Regions from separate parts of the Homo sapiens genome. Here region 1 is linked to region 2. A link means that fine-mapping ties the variant in region 2 to the expression of a gene that starts in the linked region. Tissue or cell type: testis. Region 2 holds a variant in brackets; the other region holds the start of a gene. All regions are shown on one strand. Distances are from middle to middle.

Region 1 (8,103 bases), 79 kb after region 2:
TACCGGCTACGGGGCTTCCCACCTGTGCTGAGAAGGCCAACTACCCTCCAGTCAGGTTCCCGAGACTTCATAAAAGCCTTTTAAATCAGTGCCAATACATTTGGCTTTTCTGCCTCTGGAATTTTTGCTCCCACTGATCTACATAAAAGACAGATTCAGATTCACAACCTAATTCTTTTAGAAGCAGGAATTTGGAATAATTCCTTCAACAATCCTGCTAGCAGGCCAGACGGCCCTAGTGTGAAGAGTTCACTTTAGAGCAGGACAGGTGAAGACAGGTGAAGACAGGTTCAGATGGAAGGAGTCCAGCAATCAACGAATCATGGACCATCCGTTTTTCCTAAAAATCACAGCCCAGTTCAAGCCCCTGTCTCCAGGCCTTGCCTGAAAATGATAAGGAACCACCCAGCCCCTTCGGCGAGAGGTACTTTTCCAGTTAGGATCCTTCAGGAATAAAATGTGCTATGAAGGGGCAGCGCCTGTGGTCATCAGGCCCAGTCCCCTCATCTCCTCTCGCCCCTAGGAAAGCAGCTATGTGCATCCGCAGCGGAGCAGGATGGAAGTTAGAATGACTCAGGGGCCGGGAAAGACCACTACCCACGAAGCAGTTACCACAACTTGTCTCTCAGCCTCTCATTACTAACTGGGAGGGACCCATCACAGGAAAACCACAGCTGAAGAGAAAAGGAAGCTACCCCCGACTCGGAACTTCAAGGAAAGGGTGAAAGGTCAAGATTAGACCACCAGCTACGCCAGCTGCCACAAGTGTCCTGTCCCATACAAAAGTAGAGATTGCAGCCTTCTTGTAAAAATTCACCTTCTCGGGTCAGGCATGGTGGCTCACGCCTGTAATCCTAGCACTTTGGGAGGCCAAAGCAGGTGGATCACCTAAGGTCAGGAGTTAGAAACCAGCCTGGCCAAAATGGCACAACCCCGTCTCTACTAAAAATACAAAAATTAGCCAGGCATGGTGGCGTGTGCCTGTAATCCTAGCTACTGGGGAGGCTGAGGCAGGAGAATCACTTGAACCCAGGTGGGGGTGGCGGTGTTGCAGTCAGCCGAGATCGCACCACTTCACTCAGCCCAGGCAACAAGAGTGAAGCTCCATCTCAAAAAAAAGAAAAAAAATAATCACTTTCTCCAAGAAAGGAAAGTAAAACAGCTAGCTAGCCCTTTGGAACACAGATGGGAATTTCAAGTTCAGAGCCATTTTATCCAATAGTGATGCATTTAGGATATGTTGAAAGTTTTAAACAACTTTCTAGTAACATAAGGCTCTCTCCTACAAACATTCTCTGGACCAGCAAAGCCACCAAATGCTACAGCTGCTTTTTAAAAATAGTTTCATTTTACTTAAACAAAACAGACTTTAAAAAATTAAGTTTTCAGGCCAGACGCAGTAAGTAGTTCATGCCTGTAATCCCAACGCTTTGGGAGACCAAGGCGGAAAGATCACCTGAGCCCAGGAGTTCGAGAACAGCATGGGCAACATAGTAAGACCCCATTTAAAGAAAAGAAAAGAAAGAGAAAAAATTAGCCAGGCATGGTGGCATGTGCCTATAGTCCCAGCTACTCAGGAGGCTGAGGCAGGAGGATCGCTTGAGCCTGGGAAGTTGAGGCTGCAGTGGGCTGTGACTGTGCCACTGCATGCCAGCCTAGGCAACAGAAGAAGCCTCTGTTTCAAAAAAAAAAAAAATTTTTTTTTAAAGTTTTCTACTGAAAAATGAATGCTAGGTTAAATGACAAATGTGGACTGCACATGAGTTGAAGACGAGCCAATTCCTTTCTTACATTCTCTGTTCTAAAATCTGGTATACTGTAATCACCACCGTGATGTAAATCTCAGCCCAAACTTCAGCTCCTAATGGAAAATATGCACTACATTACTGTCATTAATCATTTTTAAATCTTCACTTTTGAAAAAATAAAATCTCTTTTTTCTAAGCTGCTTCAAAGAATTCTTGAATGTGTATGAACTTGGCTTAATGTTGCCGTAATCCAACTGAAGGACATCTTAATCTATTTGATGAAACAGTAGTTTTGTACCATGAAATTACTCTTTCGCTTCCGATAAATGTGGTATGAAGTAGACATCTAAAATGGAATGGAAATTTCTGTGGTTTTCTTTCAAGGCCACACCAAATAACCAAACTTAGACTCTTCAGGACAGCACAAATTAGAATAATCTGAAAATAACTTAATCTACAATTCACTGCCTACTTTTGATGCTGAGACTACTGGAGACATTGTTTCAGTAATCAAGTGACTGAGAACAAGCTGGATAAATGCATGTTAATGAAATGATTAGGGAATCAGAAATAGGAGAGATAGTCCTTCCAAGACATACATCCGAACGGGAGTCGATGCATACAAATGTGAAAAGAAGGCTAGAGGCATCTACAAAGCAGCCTGCTGCATTTGCCGACCACCTCAAGTACGAGTGACCCCGGGCTGCACCTTGTTTAGCTAGGAATACCGGCAAGCTGTTACAGCTGGACGCCTAGTGGTGGGAGCTTACTCTCGGGTGTCCACATTTAGAAGTCTAACAATCAGACCTGGTTTCACGTGCTTTGGTGCTACCCAGGTTTTCCTTATAATGGTTAGCACAAAACAAGGGACCCAGGTTAGCGATACCAGGAAGCCACGCATTGAATGACATTACAGAAACAGCCACATAAAAGTCAGGTGGATGGTGTCACCTTGGCAAGCAACTTAGCCTCTTTAGGCCTCAGTTTGCTCATCTGCAAAATGGGGATAATAATAGCTTTTTAGTAGAATTGTGAGAATTAAGTGAGATCACGTACTAAAGCCCATAGCACAATGCCAGTTTCAAGGCTTCTGAAGTCCATAGGTGAAATTCGCTGGCTTGGCAGGATCTAAGACAGCATAAAGGTCATGGTATATTTGTTTACAAGTTCTATAAATTGCAGCACCGATGCTTCTCGACCAAGTATTTACGTGGGACAAAGCTGCCATCAGCGGTTTCTCCAGAGCCTATGTTTTGGGGCTTTTGTCCCCATCCCCTCCAGGAGTGGAGCCGCCAACACAAACCAAAGGGCAATCACTGGTTTCATCAACAGGTGCAAAAGAAAAGGCGCCAGGCACAGGGTCAGGCCGGCTAAGTCAACACCCCGGGATCCTCATGAATACGCAAAGCGCCCCAGCCGGCTATCCAGCAACCATATCCTCTGGCGGCGCGGGCCGGAGATCCCCGTGGAGGGGCGGCCGGCCTCCGTGCGCCACCGGCCCAGCCAGAGTGCTCTCTCGAGTCCCCAGCCCCACTTCATTCAAACAGCCACCCCTCTGCGCGCGACCCCTACGCCCCGGCAGTCCCAGCGCCGCCCGATCCCCTCGGGAAGGGGGGGTACCCGTCTTCCCGAGGCTGGGCGAATGCGGGCGCCCTCTCCTCCGGGCGTCGCTGCCCCCGGCCCGGACTCACCCAGCGTGGCCACCGTGCCGGCCTCGAACAGCAGGCAGTCGTCGCGGCCGCGCGCCTCCAGCAGCACGCTACAGTCCCCCTCGGCCCCCAGGCGCCCCAGCAGCCGCAGCCCTTTGCTCAGGGCCATGAGGGTCGGGCCCACTGCGGGCGGGGGCCGGGGCCACGTCCTCCCGAGGGCGCGCTGCCCGCGACAGCTCCCCGCGCGCCCGCAACTTGCCAGAGTTTCACTTTGCGCCGCCGCTCCCGCCGCGCCAGGCTCCTCCCCGGCCTCCTCCCCTTCCTCCTCCTCCCCACTCGCGCCTCCCCAGCCTGGGGCAGGTGAGGGCGCGCCGCCGCCTCCCGCCCGGCCCCGCGCTCCCCCCAGCGGCCAGGCAGCTGCGCGAGGCCGCGCCCCGGGGCTGAGGCTCCCCGCAGGCGGGCGTGGAGCGGAAGAGCCTCCCGGATGCCACGCATTCCTCGCTGCGGAGGAGGATGCCCCGCGCGGGGCGACCCCGGGAGCCTGGCTGCGATGCCGGCCGCCCGCAGCCTTATATGGGCAGCCCGGCCCGGGAGTCCGCCAGGCTGGACCCGCTGACTGTTCCCGCCGGGGGCGCTGCGCCTCCCTGTGTGGTCGGCTCCTGCGACCCTGGACGAGTCCTTTCGACCCTGCGTGCCTCGGTCTCCCTGCGGGGAAGCGGGGTCATAACTGCGCCTACTTCGGCGCGGAGGCCTGAGTTAATTCGCGGAGGCGCTTAGCGGGTGCGGAGCGCGTGGAGCGGGCTGGAGAAAGGTTACCTTTCACTAGCGTTCTATCCCGGAGGCTGTTGCGGTCACCGACCCCGCCAGGGAGAGGTGTTGGGGGTCAACGGTGCGTTGTCGCGAAGAGACCTGGAGCCGTGATCCCCAGACCACGACCCCCACTTACCACGTGACCCTGACTTCTCTGCGCTCCACCTTCCTCTCCTGTCAGATGGTGACAGCGCCTCTCCCACCGGCTCTGGACACCGGCACGTGTCCGCGCGTGTACGCTGGAGTGTGTGGCCCGGCCTTCTGGCGCGGGGTTCTAGCGCCCAGGCTTGGCCTGTCAGAGCTGCAGGGGAGGTGGGGTGGGTATGGGTGTTTAGGGCTGAGTTGGAGTCACTCTTTGGGGTGGTTTGGCGGCTTAATTCCCTTCGCTTGTGATGGGTACGTGAGGATGGCCCGAGAAGCCTCCATCAGCTGTTTCCATCCTGCCCGCAAACGAACTCAGTTCCTCTCTCACCCCATTCTGCTGTACTGGGCCAAGCTGTTTGTCTCTGGGACTTGTCCTAGAAAGGGCAGAGCCCCCAGAGCCAAGCAGAACACTGCCATGCCCCTGCAGACATTCAGTAATGACCAGACAAGCCATCCTCAGGGGACAACCTCTCAGGTGATGGTTGGGTAATAAATTTGAACAACCCCAGCAGAGATTATCTTGACCCTTAGCCCCTTTCCTTGCCCACAAACTCTGCCCAGGTCAAGCATGATGTGCTCAATATCCCAGGCATGATGCTCATCAGCTGTCCGAGCAGCTTCTTTCTGTGTAGATGGAAACATTACTACCTCATGAAAACAGTGTGCCCATTCAGTGAGGCAGATCAGCCTTTGGCCCACTTTTTGACCTGAAACTCACTTCTTCCAGGAAGCTTTCCTGGAATGCTGAGGTCCCAGATAATAGTGCTTATATAACACCCAGATTTACAGACTTCAGTTCTCACCTACTCATATGTTGCTTGAGAAGTGTTTTTATGTTTTCTCTTAGCCCTGTTTTGCAAATTGAGTGGTAAGGCCTTAGGGAGGGGACCCAGTCTTCCATTTATCTCTCTCTCCTCTTTCCTAACTAGCATCATATAGTCTAAAGTCCTGCACAGTGGCATGCCATACCTATTTTAGAAATTTTCCTGCAGTCAGGACCAGCAGTTGAGCCTCACAGCTTATAGAATCCAAGTCACCATCAACTGTAAAATGAACCACTATTTTATGTACCACTGAGAAAAAAAAAAAAACTTCCAATTAAACTAGAACATGCCACCAATAGTCATCTCTGCCCTGATTTAGACAATGTTAAAATGCACGTCTCAGACTCAAGGAACTACAGTGGCTGTTCCTCCGTCTCTGAGAAATGGCTGGGTGAGCCAAGAGCCTGCTGGGTTTTGGGGCCTCTGCTGTCTGGTTTCAGGTGGGACAGCCCACCTGGGTGGCAGAGGGAGCAGCTTCCTCACATGCGCACTGGCTTGATAGACCAAGGGTACCCAGGCACAGGCACCTTTCGCAGATGGAGCAACTGACCTTGAGGCCTTCAAGGAAAAGGTTGGCTCAGACACCTAAACCCCCAGCGGCGTTTGGGCAAAGGGGTGGGCCCATCTGCGGCAGGAGAGTTGGGCGCTTCCCCTCTCTGAGATGTATAATGCCTGGAGGGTAGGGAATTGGGAAGGGGAGGAGATGGGGAAGGAAGCAAAAGCCAACTCCACCAGCCCCAGAGTAAGCCACAGCAGGAAATGTAGCTCAGCGTGGTGTGGGTGAGGGAGTCAGGAACCCCAACAGGTTATCAGAGGAAACAAAGAGGGGAAGTAGGGGAGACATGCACTGAACGTTTGAGCCACCCTATCCCCACCCCCTGTTGCCCTACCAAATCCATATGTTGAAGCCCTGACCCCCAGTGGAATGGTTTTTAGAGATGGAACCTTTAGGAGCTCGTTAGGGTCAGATGACGTCATGCCAGTGGGGCCCTCTCAATAAGAATGATAGGATTAGTGTCCTTAGAAGAAGAGACAGGCCAGGCGCGGTGGCTCATGCCTGTAATCCCAGCACTTTGGGAAGCCAAGGTGGGTGAATCACTTGAGATCAGGAGTTTGAGACCACCCTGGCCAACATGGCAAAACCCCATCTCTACTAAAAATACAAAAAAATTCACTGGATGTGGTGGTGTGTGCCTGTAATCCCAGCTACTCGGGAGACTGAGGCAGGAGAATCACTTGAACCCGGGAGGCAGAGGTTGCAGTGAGCAGAGATGGAGCCACTGTACTCCAGCCTGGGCAATAGAGCACGACTCTGTCTCAAAGAAGGAAAAACAAAAAAAAAAAAAAAGAAGAGACACAGAGGGAAGGGCCTGAGCATCTGCCGGCCAGGAAGACGGCCCTCAGCAAGAGCCACATCAGCTGGCACCTTGATCTCAGAATTTCTAGCTTCTAGAACTGAGAAATAAATTTCTATTGTTTAAGCCACTGGCCTGTGGTATTTTATTGCGGAAGCCTGTATTATTAGTCTATTTGTGTTACTATAAAGGAATACCTGAGACTGGGTATTTATAAAGAAAATAGATGTCATTGGCTCACGCTTCCACAGGCTGTACAGGAAGCATGGTGCTGGCGTCTGCTTCTGGGGAGGCCTCAGGAGGCTTACAGTCATGGTGGAAGGCAACCAGGAACCAGCATGTCACGTGGTGAGATTAGAGCAGGAGAGCTGGGGGGAGGTGCCGCACTCTTTCAAACACTCAGATCTCCCGTGAACTAACTGAGCAAGAACTCACTTATCATCAAGAAGATGGTACTAAACCATTCATGAGAGGTCCACCCTCATGATGCAATCCTCCCACCAGGCCCCACCTCCAGCACTGGGGATTACATTTCAACAGGAGATTTGGAGTGGACAGACATCTAACCCCTATCAGAGCCCGAGCCGAGTAAGACAGGAGAGGTTTAAAGGAAATACAAATCTGTATTTGGTGCCTGATTGTATGATATGAGCTGCACAAAGGAAAGTGGGAAGTCAGACAGGACCCTGGCATTTTGAGAATGGGACAGCAGCGATACCATCCCAGAGTGAGGAGGAGGCGAGTTTAATTGGAGACAGAGACCGGGTGGGCAGGTCGTCCAGTGGGAAATGCCTACAGATGAGGGGCCAGAAATGAGTATGGCAGCGATCAAAGGGGAGTGGAGACAGACAGGGGTAGAAGGCAGGGGCAGGAGGAAAAGACGATCAAGAAGTACCCCGAGAAAGCAGAGGGGCCAAGGGCGTGACCTGGACAGCTCTGGATCTCACATGAACTGAGTGAAAACTCATCGTCTAGAGGATGGCGCTAAACCATTCCTGAGGGCTCCTCCCTCTCAGAAAAGGAGGCATTTTTTAACAGACCGGAAGGAGGTAAGAGAAACAGCCATCAGGCATCTGGGGCTACAGCCTCCCACATGCAAAAGCCCTGAGAGGTGACTGGTTTAAAAACCTCAGGAAGGTATCCAAGAATCAGGACTCAGAAAAGAAACTTGGTTTGGTGAGAAGGTAACGGGGACCTTTGAGGGGGCAGCTTCACTAGAGGGCTGGGCAAAAAAGCCAGCTTGCAAAGAAATAAGGAAGAAATGGCGCTGTGAGTGTAGTCTGCTGGCTCTGGAAGCCAGGCTGGGAGAAACACAAGATGAACAGAATGGGGGGCAGACGGGATAGCAGAGACCCTCGAGGACTGGCCAGACCTGCACATGGTGGAAGGCAAATAGCAAAGAGCAGAGCAGGAGAGCTCACTCCCCAGCACAGAGAGGCACCTGTCTCTAGAGGGGAGAAAGGAAGTCCCCTGAAAAGGAGGTGGCAGGATCTTCAGAGGGAGGGAGAGGAGGTTGGGAGGACAGGTATGGAGGCAGAAGGGAGCAGGCAGTGGGACAGGGCTGTGGGCAAGC
Region 2 (8,103 bases):
TGGCTTTGAAGGACTCCACAAAGCGGTCAACGATGGGTTTTGAACTCAGCCCCAGGGTCTTGAGCTGCAGATGCAGGACCTGGGGAGGAATAAGGGATGGCTGTCACTGGCTTCTCCCACAGAGGCCCTGCAGCCACTGTCCCAGGAGGTTCCTTATTCGGCAGCCTGTGGATTACGCTGTGCCTGGAAGACTCTGTGCCCCTCCAGAGGATGAGGAGTTCCCACAGCAGAGAGTGACTTCCCACATCTCACCCCAACTTTATCTATAGGGTCCACCCAAGCCCTCCTCTCACCCCCTGACACTTGAACGCCCCTGCACCCCGCCCCGCCCCACCCAATGCCAGAGGCTGAAGAGCAAACAGTGGTGGACAGCAGGGGGTGCTGACCCTACCCCCGACCCCCCAGCCAGGAGAGGTCAACCAGGCAGCTGGGGCCATGCAGACAGAGGTCTCCCTCCCCAGCTTCAAATCCAGCCTCATCCGGCCAGCCTCACACTGCCTTTGGCCAATGGTGCATCCACGATAATCATTACACACAACCGCTGTTCCCGAGGAGCCTTTGGGCCACCATGTCTGGGATGCATTTCACAAGAGGGTGTGAGAAAGTGTGCCTACGACAGAGAAAGCAGCCTCCTGGGGAACCCCTCTCTGGATGTCCCAGTGTCTCCCTGTCCACCTTCCCCATAGTCAGAAGGTTGTCTTGGTGATGCCACCCTCATCTTGCCGCTAAAGGTGCTCAGCCCAGCCTGTCCAGCTGAAGTCACAGGACCTGGCACAGATGGCCGAAAAGGCTGTGGCAGGGACGCACCTCGAGCGCGATGAAGCTCTGCACAGTGTTGGTTCGGTCCAGGCAGTCAAGACAGTTCATCCGCAAAGTGCCTTTCTGAAAACTTAGGACAAGAAGAAATGTAAACGGTTATATGTTGTTTTCAAAGAAGCAGTGGCCATAGCACAGAGGCCCATGTCTGACTTTTGACTCCCAAGGAAACATGGTTTTTTTTTTTTTTTTTTTTTTTTTTTTGAGACAGAGTCTCACCTCTGTCACCCAAGCTGGAGTGCAATGGCATGATCTCGGCTCACTGCAACCTCCGCCTCCCAGGTTCAAGCGATTCTCCTGTCTCAGCCTTCCAAGTAGCTGGGACTACAGGTGCGTGCCATCACACCCGGCTAATTTTTGTATTTTTAGTACAGACGGTGTTTCACCACATTGGCCAGGCTAGTCTCGAACTCCTGACCTTGTGATCCGCCCACCTCAGCCTTCCAAAGTGCTGGGATTACAGGTGTGAGGAAACATGTTCTAAGAGGGAACCCCTCACCTCCTCATCAATAGCCCCCCAGAAACCCCAGTGTCCATCCCAGTGGATCCCCAGCACTTCTGGAAAGGCAGGCAGACCCCAGGACACACACTCAGTAGCCTGCACAGCTGGGTCGTTTTACGTTTAGCTGGTCCTTGTTATTTATAGCAATTATGTTCTATAAAGTTGTAGGAACACTGAATTGGACATGAACACAGAACCATCGCTCCTAGGGGAAATATAGGGTTAGGTTCCTGCAAACCTCTGGTCACATTTTTATCAACTGATCAATATACAACCTTGTTTTATGTATGTTTCCATATAAAGACACCTTATTGAATATATATATTTGCTTAATTAACACTGAACCATGGCCGACAGCACTGTAGCTCATATAGGGACAAAGCTTATCTTAACGTGCATTTTCTCCATAAAGCACATCACCACCTTCTTGTGCTCAGAAGTACTAGACAGCTCTTCGGCACACTGCTTGGGGCCATTCTAAACCATGAGATCCCCGAACAAAGGGGGGCCCCTAACAAAGACCCCACAAATGTGAAAAACATGGTACTAAATCTTAAAAAGGAAACTTGTTTAAATACGAGGCCAGAGTATTTAAATACTCTGTCCAGCAAAAATGCTTTGCATACTGATTTTGGGGTTACAAATCAGTTTTAAGGAATAGGTAAATAAGCCAATATGGAATCTGCAAATAATGAGGACCCCCTGCATGTGACCTGAGGGAACTGGACTTCGTTTTTCTCCTCTGCTCTGAACAGGGAAGTCCATACCCTGGTCTCCTCTAGCAATCTAAGTCTATGCCAGCCATCCCACCGCGACTGTGGCCCTCACTCTCACAGGCCTGCGTCACAGCGTGGAGCTCCATGTTTTAATGCAGTCCCCTTTATTAGTTCATTTCTTTTGCCAGAAAACCATGACTCAACATCTCCTTGAGAAATTCAAAAGCCTGTCTCCTACTGTGGGAAGGGAGATGAGAAGCTGGAACCCAAGATTCCCGGCGTCGCCAAGCTTATGACCCAGGAAACCACAAGGGTAACTGAGTGGGGAGGGAAGGAAGCTGCCCCTCATAGGGCACATGTCCTAGACTGCACGGCCCCTCTGCCGCCTCACCCAGCAGAAGGCACAGCACGCAGCGAGCCTCACCGTGGACTGACGCTTCCCCCCAGCAGAAGACGCGGCACAGTGCGCAGCGAGCCTCACCGTGGACTGACGTTCTCCCCCTTTGTGAACACATCGAAGTCTTCCCAGTGCAGCTTTAACTGTGGCCTCAAGAGGGTCTCCAATTTCTCTAGCTTCCCACCTTTGGCAAACTGATGGAAGTCAAAATTGATCATAGGCGTGTCGCCCGCGTGGCAAGAAGCCCAGAGCAGCTTCTGAAAAGAGGAGGGGAGGGCGGTGAGGGGAGCAGAGGGAAGGGAGGACGAGGAGGGCAAGCTCCTTGCAGAGCTTGACCCGTGCGGCTAACCAAGGTGACTCGCCGCAGGACGTGCTTTAGCTGGAAGCTCACAGTGGACCAGGCAGTTGACCCCAAAAGGGAAGCACAGGACAAAGGCCCTGGGGGGACAAAACCCACAAAGAGCGTCTTGCCTGCGAAAGGGCAGAAGGTCCCCCTTGAGCAAAAGAAGCCAGAGCAGGTGTGGCTTCCTGGAGAGATCATACTCCTGCAGGGCTCTCTGGAGGGCACAGGTGAGGAAGGACTGCTCTGTTCTTCAGGTGGCCCAGGTGCCCCAGGCCCTCAGAGATAGCAGTGCTGTGGCAGGCTGCAGAGCTCATAATCCAGCTCCCC[G/A]TTGCCCTAGTAACCGGCCCCATCCTGCCGCGCACCAGCCTCTGGTGGTTATGCTCTGAAGAGACCAAGTCTCCAGCTGAAGTGGCCCAGGTGGGTCCCACATCCCGATGCTACTTCAGGATGGTCAGGGAGCCAGAGTGAAGGTGGGGAGAGATGGGAAGCAGGTCAAGGGGCTGCTGATGGCACCAGGATGCCCTTAAGAGCCCTCCCTTCCATATGAGGCTTCCCTGGCCTGGCAGCTCCCTGGCTTTCTCCCCAGAGAGCCCCGTGATGAAGGACAAACTGTCCGCCTACCCAGGCCACCCGGCTTCCAGGCCTCTCACCCTGCACTCATGCCCTTGTGGCTTCAGGTCAGGCCAGTCCAGCCTCTGCCCAGCCAGAGGTCCTAGTGACTTGGAAGGACTAGAAGGACTTGGGGGTCATCTGATCTGACTCAACGTGACTGCCTGTGATAGGTCTGAGTGTAAATCAATGCAGTGCTGCCATCATCAAGCAAGTCTTGCTGTGAGCAAGAAGCTGGAGGAGCCCAACAGTGCCTGGTGGCTCAGTGCCATGCATTCCACAGCCAGTGCTTCATCCAGCAGGACTGATGGCCATTGGGCCCTGGGCAGGCTGCTGGGCCACCAACCTTGGTCTGGGCCAAGCTGAGGTGGCTGAGGGCCACCCCAGGCAGGGCCATGACCCAGGTCTTCAGCTAGAGTGCCCCTCCCTACCTGGCCAGGAGCCCACCCTTCTCCGCATGAGGTGGCTGCCATCTCCCGCCCTCACCAGTGCCGGGCACTTCACCCACTGATGGGAGGGGCCACAACTCAAGGCATAGGGGAAAAGGACTTGGGGTTCTTATTATTATTCTTATTTTTTAGCTTTTTCCCTTCTTCCTTCAAATTAGCAGCCAGCATCACTGCCAAGATGGGTGGGAAGGGAGACACTTCTGGAGCTCGTTGCTAATAGCAACAAACCAAACAGGAAAAGCAGGTCTGGCCAAATAAAATTGGCAACCAGGAAGTGCCTGCTCTGAGCATGAGCATGTGGCATTTCTAAGCAGAGGGAAAGGCTCAGAGATCGCCCTAACCCCCAGTGAGGCGACTTCGAGCTCTCTCTGTAAGGGATATCTTTGAGCTTTAAACAACGAGAGAGTTTTTCTCTATTAGGCAGGGGACATGGAGGCTGGTAAAGGAACCAGGAGCCCCCTTGGCTCATTCTGGAACGTCTTGCGCCTGGGGAGCAGGGGGCGGGGGCTGGAGGCCTGGGATCCATGCACAGGGATGGAACCTGGCCAGGTGGGCGGAGTCTCTTGCTCCCATGGCTCTGTGACCCTGCCCAGGATCTGTCCAGGATCGCCAGGAAAAGCCCCCCAAGGAAGTCTGAAGGAGCCCACAGGAGCCCAGCAGCAGCAGGTCCAGGAGCTGCCATGAAAGCCCGAGGAAGAGGGGGAAATTTGAAGGCCAGCCGGCAAGCAGGGGAAAGCCACCGAAGTTCCTGCTCCTGAGCCCTGAGGCCGGGTGCCCTGTGGGGCTGGGGGAACTCACCCAGGACCAGCCAGGGCAGAAAGGGAGGCCTGCCTGCTCCTGGGCTGGACTGAGAGGGGTACCTTGAGAGGTCAGAAGCCCTCAAAGCCCCATGGGGAGGGAGGGTAAGGGACACATGGCTGGGGACAGGAGATGCTCTGTTTTGACTTTGAGCAAATTCTCCCAACCATCAGCTCACAGAAATTACACTCACTAGGCCGGGCGCGGTGGCTCACGCCTGCAATCCCAGCACTTTGGGAGGCCGAGGCGGGTGGATCACCTGAGGTCAGGAGTTCTTGACCAACCTGAACAACATGGTGAAACCCCGTCTCTACTAAAAATACAAAAATTAGCCAGGCGTGGTGGCAAGTGCCTGTAATCCCAGCTACTTGGGAGGCTGAGGGAGGAGAATCGCTTGTACCTGGGAGGCAGAGGTTGCAGTGAGCTGAGATTGCACCACTGCACTCCAGCCTGAGCGACAAGAGCCAAACTCTGTCTTAAAAAAAAAAAAAAAGAAAAGAAATTACACTCACTGTATCAGGGCCCGAGTCACTGAGCACTGCCGTGTTCACTGGTCGGAATGCTGGGGAAGCCTCAGGAAACGAAGGAGGGCTGGGCTGTCAGCTCCAGTCCCTGCAGGAGCCACCTCCAGGCTCAACGCTCCACCATGGCCACCTGCCGCCCAGCCCAGCTGTGGAGAGGACAGCCTGGCCTTACCTTGAAGGCTCTGTTGAGCACCTCCTCTCCGCCTCTGCTTCCCAGAAGGTTCACGACCACCTGCTGCCCGTACTGCTCCTTCAGAAGCACCATGTGCCTGCAAAGGCAGCGGGGTGGGCGTGATGCTGGGCACGGGCACAGGTGCAGACTCTGCCCTGTTCTGCCCCTCAAGGGAAGACGGGGCAGGAGTCATGCTTTCTTAGTGCCACAGTCCAGGACCAGCTGTCCCCCATGACCCAAATCGTGGAAAATGAGCCTGGGTGGAGAGAACCTGCACCTCCCAGCTGCCATTACTACTAGCTAGCGTAGACTTCTACATTTGTTTGGAATCAGACAAAGGATATGCTGCACTTTCTATAAAGCACCTCCCATTATATCTAGAACACCTAACCTGAACTTTCATCAAGAGAATTTTGTTTTTGAGACAGGATCTCAGTCTGTTGTCCAGGCTAGAGTGCAGTGGCACGATCATAGCTCACTGCTGCCTCAAACTCCTGGGCTCAAGCAATCCTCCCAACTCAGCCTCTCAAGTAATAGGGACTACAGGTACATGCCACCACATCTGGCTAATTTTTACTTATTTATTTTTCATAGAGACAGGGTCTTGCTATGTTGTCCAGGCTGGTCTCGAACTCCTGGCTTCAAGCAATCTTCCCACCTCAGCGTCCCAAAGTGTTGGGATTACAGGCATAAGCCACCGTGCCTGGGCTAGAGTCTTACACATGCAATGTGCACATGTGTGAAATGAATCTCTTATTTTGCTTGGTACCCACCCTTCTCAAAACTAGAACAACTGGCAGGAGAGCTCTCAACTCAGCATCCTGTTTTCAATCTAAGTGCTATATTGCATTATGCTAAACCACAACAAGGAGATACAACAAAACTTGCAGGCTTTGGAAAACATTCCTTGTATTGGAAGCTACTTTCTAAATATGTATGTTGAAATATTAGGGAGAGATTCCAATATTTATTCTTGATCACCAGCTTTTTAAAAGTAACCTTACATTTCAAATTTAAACATGTTGAAATGTAGTGCCTTAAACAAAACATAGGGAAATGATACAATGCAAAAAGCAGATGTCAAATTATCGTTTAATGGTGCAATCTTTATGCCTAAATATAGAAAAAACACTGGAAAAAAACACATGATGTCAAAAGTGGTAGAATTTTATATGATTCAAGTTCTTTTCTTCTTTAAACATCTTTCTCTTTTCCAAATTTCTGTAATGACACGTTTATGAGCGGAATTTTTTAAAGAGCTAATAATGATCATGAAAAAAATCATTTTTTTTCTTATGCAGTAAGAGAAAACATTCTCTTACTAACTTTAAGGGACAGTAGTAGAAAGACTATGGATTTTGAAGTGGGTAGTTTGAAGTTAGGCTTGCCTGCTGACTCCCTGGCCTAAGTTAAGGGTGAGCACCCTCCCGGGCTCCCGTCTCCACGTGCAGCTCCAGGCAGCCCTGGGGCGGGCTGTGTGTGGCTTCAGCCCTTGTGGGCTTTCTTTTGGGTCGGTCTGCCCAGAGAAGGTGCATCCCAGGCCTGGCTCTGACACGTGCAGGCTCTGCCCCTGGTGAGGGAGCCCACCGTGGCCACACATCCAAGCCACATCCCACAATGTGGCTCATCGGAAACAAGGCCCATTTCTGATCTCTTCCTGTCTCATTCCTGCCCCTTCTTCTCAACTGGTTCCAAAGCCCAGGGCCAGAAGGAAACTGTTATTACTCATTATTACTCACTATTCCTCATCATTACTCTATGCTGTCCCAACCCCAAACTCCCCTGATCAAATGATTCATCCCTTCTGAGCTGGCTCCTTCATCTATAAAGCAGGGCTACTTCCCCTCCTGCGGAGAATGGCGAGGAGGACTAAAAAGACGAGTGAAAGTGACAAGGACAGTGCTTGGTGTGTGGGACGTGGTTCCTCTTTCTTTCCCTTTATTGTAAAATGCTCGTTATTGGTGAGCTGAGAGGCCCTGCCGACCCAGGTAAGGGGACGCTGGCACCCAGGGCGTAAGGGAGCGCTGGCACCCAGGGTGTAAGGGGACGCTGGCACCAGCAGCAAGGTCGGCATCATACGGGCTTCTTCCTGGGTCACCCTGAGCATTGAGGCCTTTTTTTCACTTCCCCTGCCTACGGGTTACTGTCATAGGAAGCTACTTGGAAAACAGGAGTTTTTCGGGATACTGAGGAATCAGATTTCTATTTGGAAGCATCCTTCTCATCTTCAGGGAGGGACCAAGAGTTCAGCACACCCTGATGTGCACAGCAGCCGCCCGCAGAGCGGGGCGGGGAAGGAGAAGGGGTTCACTGTCCTGTGAGGAGAGACTGAGGCACCGCCCTGTGAAAGGTTAGCCCTTCCACCGAGACTCATCACCACACAGAGATGACAAGACCCCACTCAAGCAGCTGCAGCCAAAGTCCTGCTGCAAACAGCCCTCCTCAGATATGGAGCACATACAGCAAAGTGACAAGAGACCGCCTCGGCTAACAGGGGCACCCATGCAGCTCAGGCAAAGGAAAACAAGCATCCTCTGGGAAGAAAAACTATCTGTGTGAAGGTTTTGCGGGGGAAAGAAAGGATTTACTCTCAACCAAATCCATCAGAGAACCGCACGACTCTTGAGAGCGCAGTGATGTCCCAGAGAAGAGAATTGGGAAGCACCCAGGACAATGCACATGCCAGTCCAGGGACACCATCGAGGACCTGGGCAGCCTGCTTTCAGGGGGACCCTCATGGTGCCCCACTGCGGCCACTAGGCAGACATGTCACCTTA

The links. PIP is the estimated chance that this variant, and not a neighbour inherited with it, causes the effect.
Region 1: SYNJ2 starts here. The variant in region 2 is fine-mapped to the expression of SYNJ2 in testis (GTEx, PIP above 0.99).

The regions. Positions count from the first base shown.
Region 1 is chr6:157,977,425-157,985,527 of GRCh38, reverse strand. It overlaps SYNJ2 (synaptojanin 2), which reads right to left and starts at 3,665. Exons shown (of 27, transcript NM_003898.4): 1 at 3,440-3,665. The coding sequence starts at 3,566. RefSeq lists enhancers at 3,384-3,899, 4,100-4,149, 4,170-4,359, 3,900-4,415, 4,380-4,429 and a silencer at 3,400-3,979.
Region 2 is chr6:158,056,577-158,064,679 of GRCh38, reverse strand. It overlaps SYNJ2 (synaptojanin 2), which reads right to left. Exons shown (of 27, transcript NM_003898.4): 7 at 5,327-5,423; 8 at 2,516-2,688; 9 at 808-889; 10 at 1-79. Among named protein-coding and RNA genes, the nearest start is that of SYNJ2-IT1, 60 kb to the right of the region's middle. The variant G/A (reference allele first, on the strand shown) is at 3,102.